Linked DNA regions of Homo sapiens. The protein of the gene in region 2 interacts with the protein of the main gene of each other region in a pairwise test. Each region holds a gene or a part of one and is shown on either strand. Other genes may lie near its edges.

What was found.
Region 1: the proteins of putative serine/threonine-protein kinase SIK1B (region 2) and LHX8 interact in a two-hybrid assay, tested with the Homo sapiens proteins (one large-scale study listed by BioGRID).

What each region holds. Positions count from the first base shown.
Region 1 is NC_000001.11:75,158,134-75,162,089, reverse strand, and holds the end of LHX8 (LIM/homeobox protein Lhx8), read right to left. Parts: intron 1,272-3,956; coding exon 1,195-1,271; 3' UTR 557-1,194; downstream 1-556. UniProt on the Homo sapiens protein: Transcription factor involved in differentiation of certain neurons and mesenchymal cells.
Region 2 is NC_000021.9:6,109,670-6,113,965, reverse strand, and holds the start of putative serine/threonine-protein kinase SIK1B, read right to left. Parts: upstream 2,836-4,296; 5' UTR 2,714-2,835; intron 1,897-2,713; 5' UTR 1,883-1,896; coding exon 1,727-1,882; intron 1,228-1,726; coding exon 1,111-1,227; intron 1-1,110. UniProt on the Homo sapiens protein: Serine/threonine-protein kinase involved in various processes such as cell cycle regulation, gluconeogenesis and lipogenesis regulation, muscle growth and differentiation and tumor suppression. Phosphorylates HDAC4, HDAC5, PPME1, SREBF1, CRTC1/TORC1.

The DNA.
Region 1 (3,956 bases), on a different chromosome or scaffold from region 2:
CTCAGTTAAACACAGACTTAAACCTAAGTTCTAAAAGTTTTTTCTCATTACCTTTTTTCTTCCCCAACTGGCATATAAAAAGACAAAAAGTGAGTACTAAATTCTTTAAATTCAAAAATTTGTAAGTCCACTGCCACATAAGATAAAGTCCTGAGGTTTAAGATTTCAGCTCTCAGAATCACCATCCCTAAAGGGTATTCACCAAGAAGAAAATGCAAAGAGTTCTTGCTCTAGAAACTTTTAGTTCTCTTTTTTCACTCCTGAAGAAATATATTATGGCCCATATTTCATTTCTGGCTTGTAATACCCTCCGAAGTCCATTCTGAAAAGTGTTCTGCCTTCTCTTTCACATTGATTTTATTAGCTGGCCTAAAAGACAATTTTTGCCAAATTAAATGTTTTACTGTGTTTTTTTTTTTTGAATAATATGTTTCCTACTCAAATGTGTTCATACAATGCAGCTCAAAACACAATACTTTTTAAACTTATTAGTTGTTAGATTTTAAAGAGACTAAAGTCAACTTACTGCTGAAAACACACAAAAAGGACAAACTGGTTGAAATTTTCACAAGAATGGAAAATGTTTAATAAACTCAGAATGGTGGGCTTATTAAACTATAGTGTTATTTACAGCCATAATTCATCAACCACAAACACAATAATGTGTTTGCATGGCATGCTACAACAGAAGCTTTATTCAGTTCATTCAGAAAACATTGGCAAAATAAATTTCAGTTGCAAATTCACAGATACAAGCTTCAAAGTATAAAGTTGTATATAACAAAAAATACAGGTAATATTTATTACAATAACTTACAGATACAAACTAATGATAAACTACAATTTCACAAAAGATTGTAAACATTTTGCACACTTGTCAGTCCTTTCTTTTAGGCAAAGTGCTCTTTTGATGACAAATAAATTAACAGATACACACTAGAGTGAACTATTTCCAGACAATACAAAAAATGTTTTGATTTGTTTTCTTCTTGTAAACATAAGTTTTACAAAAAATGAAGAATTAATAAAAGTGTCTTGCAGGCCAACTATAGATACATACCTGGGCAGCAAAGTGATGTTGGAAATGCTTTAGGTGTTAAATAAAAAATTAACAGTAATATCTTTTCAATGGTATTTTATACATAATAAATGACAAATTTATATCCTTAATCAAGTCTATCCCTGAAAAAAGAATTAGGTATGACTTATTGGCAGTTGTGTCATTGAATGGGGTAACAAGGGCTGGAGTCCAAGAGTTGTTGGTGAATGAGCTACAAAATAGAAAGAAATTTGTGGATCAGTTTTGTAGGGTGCATAAAACTGATTTATAAACAAACAAAAACAATCCAAGGCATTGTTTTCATCACTCATTATAGCTGAGGGCACCAAGCTACACTCATTCCACTGACCTCAGCAGAAGCATTAACCTATTCAGCATAGTGAGAGTCCAGGAACAGTTTTACCCCCAAATCTTTATTTGGGGCCACAAGATTTTGCCATTTTAATGTCCTCCATCCATACCCCATTCACTGCACTTCACCCTGAAGCTAGAAAGACATGGGTTCCTCTTCAGAGATGCTGCTGCTAGCTTTCTCATGAAGGTGTTTGTATAGGATGATCTTCCCCAAGTTTCTTTCATTAATGTTTAATTACCTCCTCCCTAAGCATACATCAAAACACACTGGACTCAGGCAACACTACTGTGTTTCATGTGAACACACACAATTTTAATGCTAGTATAAGTAAATGGCAACAACAGTACAGGCTCTGATTTTTTATCTAACCAAAACTTAAAATGAAGTTTCTGCTTTCAGCAAGGGCTATGTTGCTTCAAACCAAACCTTTCTCTGAGACCAACTAGGAAATCTGGACAAAATTTTTAAAATCTGTTTGAAGGCATCTGAAAGACACTTAAGTAGTGAGGACTTACAAAGTCCCAGAGTGGAGGGAAAGAAAATGAGGATGCTTTTCCTCCCGCAAGGATAGTGACAATTTAAAACAAAACAAATGTCTGATAGGCCAAGAAGTTTAGCAGAGCATTCAGAAGTTAGACTTTGGCAGAGTGGTGAGAAACAAAAATTAAAGAGCAGGGCCCGCTGAAGAGGAGAAGCCCTAGTTAAAAACAACAACAGAAAACAAAACAAAACAGGGATTCATTTGTGATTCCAAAGGGCTAACTCCAAGGAGTAGTAAAACAAAAATATACCAGCCCTCTTAAGGATTTGTGCCTGATTGGATTAAGTTGATTTCACCCTATTCTGACTACCTGGGGGGTAAAACTAATCTTCTCTAGTGAAAGATATCATCCACAGCCTCAAATTATTTTTAGTTACTCATACCCAACATCTGAAATGCAATAGCAAATAAGAAGACAAATAACAAGACATGACTTGAAAGAAAATAAAGAGGAAAATTAAGAAAACAGAATAGACCCACCAAAGATCCAGATATTGGAGTTATCACACCTGAACTTTAGTATAACAATTTAAATAAGGATAAAGTGACAAAATGGATGATTTCAGCATATAAATGGAAATCTTAAAACTGAAAAACATAATAAATTAAGAAGTCGGTGGATGATTTTTTTACAGGATATTAGATATAGAGAGCATTAGTGAACTAGAAAAATAGTTCAGAAGAAAACAAGAAAATTTTTTCATAGGAGCAAAAACAATATTTGAGGAGGCAAAAGCTGAGAATTTTCCATAATGAAAGACATCAAACTACATATTCAAGAAGCACACCCAGGCACAGTATGGTAAAACTTTTTCAAGACAAACACAAAGAAAAAAGTTGAGGAAAAAAGACGTTTATTTTCGAAGGAGCAAGAAGGTCAATAGCTGACTTTACCAATAAATGGGGCCAGGTTAATTAGCTATCCATATGCAAAACAAACAATGAAAATCAGAAGACAAGGTAATCATATCTTCAAAGTGCTGAAAGAAAATAACTACCAATCCAGATTTCTACTTATAGAGAAAATACCACTTACAACTGAATCAAAAGAAATACTTAGAGATAAACTTAACAGAAGATGTGCAAGATTACTAAACAGAAAAGTCTAAATCATGAGATGATTTAAAGATGATCTAAACAAATGGAAAGACATGCTAAAGTTCATGGTATGGAAGAAAATACTGTTAAGATGGCAATTTCCTAAAACTGATCAATATATTTGCTGTAATAGATTGTATCAAAATCTTAATTGTTTTCCCTTTTGGGGTAGAAATAGACAAGTAGGTAAATTTTATGAAAACATAAAGGGCCAAGAATGGGCAATACAAACTTGAATAACAACAAAATAGAAACACATTATCATATATTAAAAATTATAGACCTACCATGATTAGAATGATTAAGTAGCAACACAAAAATAAATAGACCAATAAAATAGAACAGAAGGTACAGAAATTGACACAACATACGGACATTTGATTTATGGCAAATATGTCTCTACAGAGAAGCTGGACATTTTCTATTTTCATCAACATAACAAAAAAGCTTCACTTTCTACCTCACACCACACACAAAATTCAGTTCCAAATGAATTGTAAATCTACACAGCAAAGGTAAAACAAAGTTTCTAGATGATATCATAGAAGATATATCTTCATTATCTTTGAGTATAAACAATTTCTTGCACATGTCACCAAAAAAAGCATGGCTCATGAAGGAAAAATGATGAAATAAACTACATTAAAATTAGGAACTTGTGCTCAATGAAACATTCCATTAAGAGAGTAGAAAAAGCCAAGCAACTAAGTAGGAGAAAATATTCTAAGCACATACAATTATCAAAAAGCTTTATATGCAGATTACATGAAGAAATTAAGCAAATCCATTTAAATAAATAATAAAGACAAGCCAGTAGGCCAAAAGACAAAAAGACTTGTACAGCTCTTCACAAAAGAGAATATACAAATACCTGATGAAAAAATGCTCAGTCATCAGGGAAA
Region 2 (4,296 bases):
GGGCTGGGCACGCTGCACAGGCAGTACACCAGTGGCCATGGAGCACACAACTTAAAAATGACAACAGAAACAAAACACAAACCAGGCGCACACGGCATGAATTCTGTGCTTAAAGACACTGAGCAAACTGTCGTAAGCTCCACCAATACTGCTACTTTTATTTTCAATCTAGTGCAGAGGCTTTTGGGGGATAATTTCGAATCATAATTCTCTCTCCTACCACACTGTACACCGAGCTGTCCTAATTGCACAAACACACACAACAACATCCCAGAGTCATCTCACATTCCATTTCATAAGAATCATTACGAGGAACTTCAACCCAACACAAATGGATGAAATAGCACCTGCAAAGAACTTCTTCTGCAAGAAGACTTGATTTCACCTTGCAAAAGTGGTCATTTGTCATTAGGGAGGTGTAAATGATTGCTTTGCTGTTCTAATTAAATTAGTACTTATTTCCTGATGATATAATTTATTAATTTCAACATGAGAACAAAAATTAAGTCACAAAATAAACCAACAGAGAGACAGGGCAAGCCATGTTCCTAGCATGGATTAAATGACAAGCTCCTTGCTCTTACTATGGAAAAGTATTTTCATCTCTCCGTTTTTCATGGAAGAGTTTAAATAGGGAAAACAAATGCTCACTACTGTCCTTGCAAAAATAAACTAATGAAAACCAGTAAGAGCAGCTGGCTTTAAAGTTTAATAATTATCTGCAAAGGCAGAAGTTTCCAGTTTCACTCAAATTTGTCCTTTTATACTAAATGCGTGACCTGTGGCAATACCTACAGATAAGTTTGTCTGTTTTCATAGTAAAGCAAATTTACAACAGACTTCTACACATTTAAAACTGGATCAGGTTAGGATACTAAATAAAATTCTAATGAAGCAAATCTCAATTATGATCCAAAAGCAATAAAATAATTGTAAATATATCTGCACAGCCTATAAAAATCAATCTATTTACCTTATACAACCAAATGCCCAACTTCCACACACTCCCCAAAAGGGAAGCCACCTTCAGAAATTGCAGACTTATGCTGTTGGAAATAAAATATAACACATTTGCCAGGATTAGCAGAGAAAGGCAAGCTGACCCCTTACCTGGTAAAGCTTTATGATGTGTGGATGGTTCAGAAGCTTCATCAGCTGAACCTCACGATAGATTTTCTCCAAATTGCTTGAATCTAATCGTGTTTTATCAATTATTTTTATTGCAACCTACAAATTTAAAAAGAAAAAGGATATTCTGTGGGTTTTTTTAAAAAAAGAAAAGAAACCCTCAACCTAATTTACACATTTCATTTTTTGCAAGTTAATTTCTCAACACTCTGTCTCCAGAAGGTCACAAGAAGTTGGGAAAACATAACCAAAGTAACCACTAATGTTATTTAAAATAATCAGAGTTAAGTAAGTGACTTAAGTATTTGCAGGCTCACTTTACAGGGTTTAGCTCTGAGTCCATGAACCACTGCAATCTTAGGTTGGTCCTTTTTTTTGCTATTATCCTCTCTGCTTTCTCCCAATATATGTCCAAATTATGCAGCAACATAATATAAAGCATTATTTTTCTTTACCGAACTAAAAACGGTTACTATTTACCCACCACGACAATCAAGCCTGGAGCAGTGAATCTGCATGGGGTCCACCCGCCAAAGGTCGGGTCGCCCCGGGTCCAGTGGGGAGGCCCCGCCGGCTGGGTCCCACCGCCCCCACGCACCTGCGTTTTGGTGACTCGATGCCGCGCCAGCTTCACCACCGCGAAGTTGCCTTTGCCCAGGGTCCGCTCGATGTCGTAAAAACCCACCCGGAGGGGCTTCTGCTGGCCCTGACCCTGGCCCGCGGGGTCCGCGCTGAACTCCGACATGATAACCATGGCTCCGCGCGCACCTGCGGGGCCGCACAGAGCTCAGAGCCCACCAGCGCCCCCGCCGCCCGCGGTCGGCTCCATCCGTGCCCGCGGAGCCCCCAGTCCCCACGGGACGCAGGGACCTGCTCCCACGCCTGTCGCCCCCACTCTATCCACGGGCCCCTCCAGCCCCGTGGGAGGTGTGGACCCGCCCCCGCCGCCCGCTCCACCCGGACCCCCGACCCTCTTGAGCCCCGCGGGGCGCACGGACCCGCTCTCATAGAGGCCCCTGCCGCCCGAGTCCGGTTCCGTCCCGATCCCGGGACCCCCTGAGCCGGGATTCCACACTCGCCTCCCGCCGCCCGCTGTCGGTTCCGTCCCCACCCTCGACCCCTTTAGCACCTCTGGGCGCGGACCCGCTCCCACACCTGGCCCTGCCACCCGAGGTCGGCTCGATCCGGATCCCAGGACCGTCCCCTGCCCCGCTCCCACACCCTGCCCCCGCCGCCCGCGATCCGTCCGGTCCCCACCCCCGACATCCCAGGCACCTCGGGGATCGCGGACCCGCCCCCCACACCCGGTCTCTCCGCCCGCGGTCGGCTCCAACCTGACCCCCGGCTCCCCAGCCCCTGAGCCCCGCGGACTCACTCCTACCCCGGCCCCCCAACAAAGGGGAGCCCGAGGGCGGCCAGGCCGCCAACCCCGCCCGCGAACCCCGCGCGCGCAAGGCCAGGGACCCTGCGCGGTGGCTGCAACCCCGAGCCCCGGCCCGGCGCCCGCGCGGAGCCCCCACGGCGGCCACCTCCGCCCGCCCGGAGCCCGCCGCTGCCGCCGCTGCCGCCGCTGCCGCCGCCTCACCTCCGCCGCCACCGGAGCGCCCAGGCCAGGAAGCCGCCCGCTCGGCCGCTGGCGCTGCTCGGGTGCCTACTGCTCCGGCTGCCGCCGCCGCTGCTGCTGCCTCCGGGGCCGCGCCGCATGTCAGCCCGGAGCCGCCGCGCTCCGCCGCACGCGGCGCCCGGCCCCGCCCCGGCCCGCCCCGGCCCGCCCCCCGTAGTCCCCGCCCCCTGCCCCGCCCCCGCCGCCCGGGCGGGGGCCGCCCATTGACGTCGCTTTGACGCCAGAGCGACGCGCGGCCGAGCGCCGGGCGGAGGGAGAGCGGGAGATCGGGCGGTTGCCAAGAGACTGGCGGCTCTGACGCGCGCGGGATGAGGCCGTTGCCCTGGCGACCGCGGGCCGGTGACGTCAGGGGCGCCCGCCGCCCGAGGCCCGCCCGCCTGCGCTCCGCCGGGCGCCCCCTCCCGGGCGCTGGGGGCACTGCGGGCGGCCCCACCGCCGAGGGCGCGCCCGCCCCTCCACGCTCGGGCACTCGGGCCGGGTCCCGCGGGCGCCTTGTGCTCGCTCCCTCCAGGAGGGGACGGCTCTCGGGCAGGGGTCGCCGGCCCCTCCACGCGGCCTGCGTTCGTCCAGACTCAGAGCCTCGGGACGTGCGGGGGCCCGGGGGCCTCGCGGGCTCGCGCGTGGGGCTGGCGGCGCGGATGCCCTGGGGCGCTGCAGACCCCGAGAGGCCGCTTGCCCGCGGGGACGTCAGCCGCTTTTGCTGTTAAAATCTGAAATGTTCAGCAAGTTAGAAACTTGAAACCTAAGGAAGCGTGACCGGCCGCTCTGGAAGCCCCCGCCGCGCGGCCGGTCCCGGCCCCGGCCCTCAGCGGCGCTGGCGTCTGCGCGTCCCGGGGCTGCCCCCGCAGCATGTGGGGCTGGGACCCTCTTCCCGCGCGGGCCCCGGGCGGACGCTGCGGGCGGTGACGGAGCCAGGCCGGCCGCCTGGGTAGGGGACGGGGGCGCGGGACCACTTGCTTGCCCGTGGCCGATGCCTCATCCGAACGGAAAACGTTTTCTTCAGGGGAGACAGAGGCTGTGGGCGAAGGTATTTTTTAAGCCTGAGGACCCATTTGGGAGTTAGATTCTGGATCGAGCCTAGGGTCAGTTTTCCTTGTGTTAAATAACACTACTTCACAGAAGGGGGAACGAGAATTCAGGGAAGTTGGCACAAAACTTGGAACCCTTCTCGGGAGGCTTTCCTGCCTGGACGGACGCCTGGGAGGAGGGCCCGGAGAAACGAGGATGAGCTTCTCCTCATTCGCCCGAGGGTCTGACCACAGATTTCCCAATCGACACACACACACACACACACACACACACACACATACACACACACGGGTTGTTTGGGAGTCAGTTGGTTTTCAAAGGCTTTCAAGGAAATGAAGAGTCCCAAAGTTTTCCTTAATCGTTCAGAGTGTTTTTCTTTGTCCCAGGTTTATATACCAAGAATACGGGGGAATATTTTTAGTTCCTTTCAGCTGAACAGTGTACAACTGCCTTTTTTCCTTTTGGAGGTCCCAACACCCTGTTAATCCGCTCCTAGGAGAACTAAACAAAAACAA